Linked DNA regions of Homo sapiens. The protein of the gene in region 1 purifies or fractionates together with the protein of each later gene. This does not show direct contact. Each region holds a gene or a part of one and is shown on either strand. Other genes may lie near its edges.

Region 1 (3,657 bases):
TGTGTTTCAAGTCTGAAGAAGCCACTGGGGCCAGGTGCGGTGGCTCACGCCTGTAATCCCATCACTTTGGGAGGCCAAGGCAGGTGGATCATCGGAGGTCAGGAGTTCAAAGATGAGGCTGGCCAACATAGTGAAACTCCATCTCTAAGAAAATACAAAAATTAACCCGGGCATGATGGTGGGTGCCTGTAATCCCAGCTACTTGGGAGGCTGAGGCAGGAGAATCGCTTGAACCCAGGAGGCAGAGGTTGCAGTGAGCTGAGATCACGCCATTGCTCTCCAGCCTGGGAGATGGAGCAAGACTCCATCTCAAAAAAACAAAACAAAAAAAAATTGGCCAGGCGTAGTGGCCCACGCCTGTAATCCCAGTGCTTTGCGAGGCCAAGGTGGGCAGATCACAAAGTCAAGAGATCAAGACCATCCTGGCCATGTGGTGAAACCCCATCTCTACTAAAAATACAAAACTTAGTAGCTGGGGTGGTGGCGGGTGCCTGTAGTCCAAGCTACTCAGGTGGCTGAGACAGGAGAATTGTTTGAACCTGGGAGGTGGAAGTTGCAGTGAGCTGAAATCGCACCATTGCACTCCAGCCTGGATGATAGAGGGAGACTCCATCTAAAAAAAAACAAAACAAAACAAAAACAAGAAAAAGGAAGCCACAGGGATCCCACTCCACTGTCAGGAGGTCCAGACTGGGTGTAGCAAAATTGTGAAGTCAGCCAAGTACTACCTATATCCCACTTCCCCCTCCTCCAGGATATACTCCCACCACTGCCCTATTTGGGGGCAAATGGCCAGGCAGGGGAGCAGGGGGCGACTGATGGACATTAGCCACTACTACAGAGTCACATAGAGCCAGTGTGGGGTGCAGGATCCCATGGCTGTGTCAGAGACCCCTAGCTCTGGCCCTCAGTTTCTTCCTCTGTGAAATGCGAACTATTCCATAGGTTTCTTTTCCCTGACTGTTGAAAAGATGAGAAACTGTGAGCCTGAAAGTGCTCTTGCCATGACAGATGAAATGCAAGCCTCAGAGGGAGAACTGTTATGTCCATTCTTAGCACCAGGTAGGCCCATTCCTGGTCGGGGACTGCCCCCTTCTCACTCTCAGGGTGGGGCGGAATGCAGCTGGCCCCTCTCCCCAGAGGAGCCCCTGGCACTCATCCTGTGAACCAGAGCCCTATCGCTGATCAGCACCAAATGGCTGAGGATTTCCTGGGGCTGATAGAGGGGCTCAGACCCTTGGTTCTCAGACGTGAGCTGGGAAGAGCTGGCCATGGCCTGCGCCATCCCTGGATTTCCACACTGGTGGCTGCACCCTGGCTAACTCTTTAGGGCTCCAATCTCACCATGAGCTTGAGGAATAAGCTCTACATTGCAGAGCCTCCTAGGTCTGCTCAGTCTTATCCAGATCATATCCCCTGCAGCTGCTCCAGACCGGCCTGTACAATCTCACTGTATGTCCACAGCCGGGGCTGGATAGCACCTCTTCAGGCAGGAGCAGTGGGTGCTGCCAGGCCTGCTGCTCAGGCCCCCTCCGGACAGACGCTGGGGGGCTGTAAACCTGCCTTAATTGAAATATGCAACAGGGAGGCCCCCAAGGAGCGATGTCTTTGCTGTGCTGCCAGTCCCACCTCCCTGCTCTGAGCGAGGGGCTGTGAATCAAGCTGCAGTCAACTTCTGACCTCGAGCTACTGCGAGGGACCAAGCAATGGAGTGTTTGTGACCCAGGGGTGGCTCCCAGTTGGATGGAGGTGTCTTCTTTGGCCATCCCACTCAAAGCCCCTGTGCCCTGGAAATCACTGGACATCTGGGTTGAGGCCACACTGACCACAAGGCATGTCCAGTGCCTTCAGTTTGTCAAGTGCTTTCACAGTCACCATCTCGTCGGAGCTCCACAGCAGCTGGTGAGGTAGGTGAAGACTACCAGACCCATTATACAGAGGAGGTAGATAGGCTCAGAGAGGCAAACGGACTTGCCAAGGTCACACAGCTGCTAGCTAGCAGAGCCAGGCACAGCCTGGAAATCACTAATTCTTGGGGGCAGAGTAGCACAGGCTTTGTGGCTTTGGGGCAGGTACTGAACTACTTTGAACCTCAGTCATCTCATTTGAAAAATGGGGATAGGTGGGGGCACAGTGGCTCACGCCTGTAATCCCGGGACTTTGGGAGGCTGAGGCTGACGAATCACTTGAGGTCAGGAGTTCAGACCAGCCTGCCCAACATGGTGAAACCCCGTCTCTACTAAAAATACAAAAATTAGCTAGGCGTGGTGACGCATGCCTGTAGTCCCAGTTGCTCTGGAGGCTGAAGTGGGAGAATTGCTTGAACCTGGCAGGTGGAGGTTGCAGTGAGCCAAGATCGCCCCACTGCACTCCAGCCTGGGTGACAGAGCGAGACTCCATCTCAAAAATAAAAAAAATAAAAATAAAAAAAGAAAGAAAGAAAAAGAAAAATGGGGTAATAATACTTCCTGTCTCATCAGGTTATTGTGGTGATTAAATGAGATGCTGCTATAAAAAGTATTCGGCATAGAAGTAGCATAGAGACCTGCTCAATAAATGTGAGCAATATAATTGTCATTATTATCCCAAGGATATTCAGCTGCTGTCCCTGTGCTGGCCATGCCCCAGATGAAGCCCTGGTACCTCTAGGCTGTAACCTCATCTTTGTTCAGGACCTGCTGAGATGGGCTCAGGGGCTGGGTGTGGAGACATCGGGACGGAGTGGGGACCACTGGGCTCCTTTCCAAGGCTGCCCACCTGGTGAAGGTGGCCAGGAGCCTGTCTACGGCCCTAATTTTTAGCCCCATGGAAGTGGCTGCCTACTTCCTCGCACAGATCTCAGGTCTGCTTAGGGCCACGCCAGGACTGGCTGAGGCTTTGCCCTGAGGTTTTGGTCTTGGTCTCAGAATCAGGCTGAGAATGGGAGCTGAAAGGATTGGGGGTGGTCCAGACCCTCCAATCAAACCCCTGCCCAGCCCAGGCGATCCTTCAGGCTCTGTGGATGCCCAGCATCCCAGCACGGAGGCCTGCGCCATGGGAGCAGCTTGCCATTCCCCTATGTCCCAGGCAACCCTAAGATGGAAGGGGGTGAGGCAGGACTGTGTATAGCCGAGTAAGTCTGCCTTGGAGTAGAAGGATGGTGGGTGCAAGTGACGCAGGGCCTGGCCAGACTGATGCCACCCCCAGGCCCTGAGTCCTGCAGTCTCCAGACCACCCCGACTGTGAACCCTGGCCTAAAGGGACACCACTCCCTTTAGAGCCCGCCTCCTGCAGGGGAGTCCCCTCTAGGACATGGCCCTGGCCATCAGCCAGACTCCACCACAGAGTTCAGGGGCTAGCAAAAGGAGGATCAGACCTCCCATCAGTTTTACATACTTTCAGATACCCCCTTCAGGAGCCCCGCAATGAGAACGGAGGAAGGGCAGTCCTGCCCACACCTCCTGGGACCTAGGAGGCCAATGGGCATCTTCATGTCTAAGAGGAGCTCTGTGAAAGCTTTGGGGCCTGTGGGGCCAGATCCTTAGCATTTTTAAATTTTATTATGACTTCATTTGTTTAAATATATATATATATATATATATATATATATTTATTTATAGCTCTATGTGCCCACCGCCCCCGGCCCCCTCCCCGGCCCCTAGTTTTTCCCCCTGGCTT
Region 2 (3,072 bases), on another chromosome or scaffold:
TGCTAGTGATGCTGGCTGGGGTGCAGAGTTAGAGGTAGAGGGCAGAAAAATTGGTTTTGGACCTATCTAGAGATGCCTGTTAGAGTTCCAAGTGGAGACGCTGATCAGGCAGCTGGATATTCAAGTTAGGAAAGGGATGGGCTGGAATCTGATGAAGATGAAGGAGATTCCTCAAATGCTAAAAATAAATAAATAAATAAAGAGGGAAGTTAGAAAAATTGAGTCTGTTGAAAAAGTTTCAAGGCATCTGCATTTATATCATCACTATTTTTGTATCACTTATAAAGTTCTGTGATGACTGTAAAAACTATGTGGCAACATCAGGTTCTAAGAAGTGGCTACAGGTGGTTCCTAAAGTGTGGACCTCAGGCCAAAAGCATCAGCATCACCTATGAGATTGTTAGAGATGCAAATGATTGGGCCCCACCTGACCCATGGAGTCAGCTCTGGAGATAGGGCCCAGGAAACTGTTTTGACAAGCTCTCCAGAAGATTCGCACACACATTAAAGACTGAGTGAGCTGGATGATAAGATGTTTAGTACTTCCGGGTTTTAATCATTTAAAAAGAAAAGGAACAACTTTTTCTTTTAAAGCAGAAATGTCTTTATTGTTTGAAGCATGACAAAATAAAATTGATAGGACATTTCATTTCTTACTTAGTCTTCTCAATGGGGTTATAAAAATACAATGCCACTTAGTTTTTGTAAGCTCTTGAAAATGTCCAGAAGCTCACACTTAGTATGATATTAAAAGGCACTTATAACACACAATAAGATACTTAGAAACCCATCTCATAGATACAATTGAAATTTCTTTGAGAAAAATTTCTAAATATAGAAATAAATAGGACGGCACTATTTCTTCTTTTCCAAAACACAGAATAGCATTTTCCCCATGTTACCTATACACACCATAAATGTGGACACCTCCTCCCATTTTTGTTCTTGATACAGGTTGATAATCAAGCTGAAATTAATTTGCTTGCTTTTCTTCAATTTAATCTCAATTTGGTTTAAAATAAAGCAAAATTCTTAATTTGTATCCAGGATCTTTTAGAATACCTGGCTTATTTTCATTTTGTTTTAAATCACAATTCATTAAATAGGAAGATGATGATGCAAAAATTTTAAAAAGTACTTACTATTTAGCTGCCCAAATCACCCTAAGCAACAATATTTCTGAAGCATGTGTACATACATGTGTGTATATTTTTAAATATCACTTTTGTATCACTCTGACTTTTTAGCATACTGAAAACACACTAACATAATTTTTGTGAACCATGATCAGATACAACCCAAATCATTCATCTAGCACATTCATCTGTGATAGAAAGATAGGTGAGTTTCATTTCCTTCAGGTTGGCCAATGGATAAACAAAGTACGCCATAAATTAACTAAAAAACCCACTGCCCTATGCTATATCTGTGCTATTGTTAATTAAAATAAGTGTATTCTTGCTGTGGAAATTCTGTGGTCTGGGAATTTTTATTTGTTCATTCTTTCAAGGCATTAGTAAGAAAGGATAATTTCTATTTTGAACAGAAAGACATACAACTAGTCAGATCAATAACTCATTATTGGCATATAGGATGCTATTTTGGAGGTAAGTGAATTATTTCACCCCATGACTGTCTGAATATGGTCAATCTGAAATGACTTAACAGTGAAATCCAGAGATCTGGTTACTTTCCTGGCAGGATTTGGCCTATAAATGAAAATGGACATTTAAAATAATATGGGGAAAATACAGAGTTGCTTGAATGCTTATCACTTTATTACTGCAATCATAAATGATAGTAATTTAAATTAGTCCTTCACATTGATATGTGTTTAAATTAGTCCTTAGGTATGCCTTTTCTGCCTTTTGTTCTGTTGCTCACCCTTTTAAGAAATGCCATGATAAATAGCACATGGTTGTGTTGTATGGAGTATCTTGTACTACCTTCCTGAGTGTATGTACATTTGTTCATTTATTGGGCCTCTGCCCAACAAATGAAAATGAATTTTTTATTCAGCTTTTCTGTTGGACAGCACTGAAAAGCTTTTGCTGATTTTCAAGGCAGTCTTTCAGCTTATCCTCTGTCAAAGTCAGTCGCTGCTCCAAGATTGAAACAGTCTGCAAAAAGGAGGATAAAATAATCAATGCCTGGTCCTCTGGTGGTGAGGATGACAATGACAATCTCTGCATAGGAAATCCTTTTAAGAACTGGGATGCCCACCCTTCTACCAAGAAGTTGGCTCAAAAATGAGCCCCAGAACTTGCTGTGCTTCTGGGCCCAACCATAGGGCAAGGCATTATCAAGCAGTTGGAGAAAAGAAAAGAAAAAGAAAAAACCCAAACTGATGTGTTTGAGAAAAAAAGCAGTGGAAGATCAGACCTCTTATGCCTGATCTTCTAAAGCACCAAAACCAGGGAAGAGGCCACACAGCGTTCTAAGTGGTGCCATAAGCTACACACTTAGTGGAGAAGGGGAGGGGGTGCGAAATTCCACATGCCAGCCAGATGCCACTGAAATGTCATCACTACTCATTCTGTCACAATCCAATCCATGGCAAACCGTACCTATAGCACTGCAGATGGATGGCTAGATTGCTTTGAAAATATCCTAACAATCGCCTCCAGTTCCCTCACACAGAAGATGCTAATATTACCTCGTGGAGTTGTTAGGAGGATTGAATAAAATAATGCATGTAAAATGCTTACGCTAGTGTTGGACACACACGGTTTGAATAATCCTGTACTCACTTATTAGCTGAAGGAGTTAGAACACATCCAGAATACATATACAAACACATATACATATATATATTAAATGTTAACATATGTTTTATATATATGTTAAACTTGGGATATCTAATTTTTGTGATACTGGCTACTCTGCCTTCATTCTTTTGTATCTTTTTTTTTTAAAAAAACTTATTATAAAATGAAACATAGATTATTCAGGAACCCACACAAGGTACATGTGTTATTTAATGGATTCTTATAAGAAATACATCCTCAAAACCATCACCCATAGCAAGAACTAGACTCTGCCAGCCACCCCAGAGGAGCCTTCCACGTGCCT

The links. Proteins that work in one complex are often made in the same cells at the same time.
Region 2: the proteins of INSYN1 (region 1) and POC1B purify together in Homo sapiens (affinity purification with mass spectrometry; one large-scale study listed by BioGRID and IntAct). This does not show direct contact.

The regions. Positions count from the first base shown.
Region 1 is NC_000015.10:73,736,280-73,739,936, forward strand, and holds part of INSYN1 (inhibitory synaptic factor 1), read right to left. Parts: coding exon 3,638-3,657; 3' UTR 1-3,637. UniProt on the Homo sapiens protein: Component of the protein machinery at the inhibitory synapses, probably acting as a scaffold. Inhibitory synapses dampen neuronal activity through postsynaptic hyperpolarization.
Region 2 is NC_000012.12:89,419,138-89,422,209, forward strand, and holds the end of POC1B (POC1 centriolar protein homolog B), read right to left. Parts: intron 2,121-3,072; coding exon 2,016-2,120; 3' UTR 581-2,015; downstream 1-580.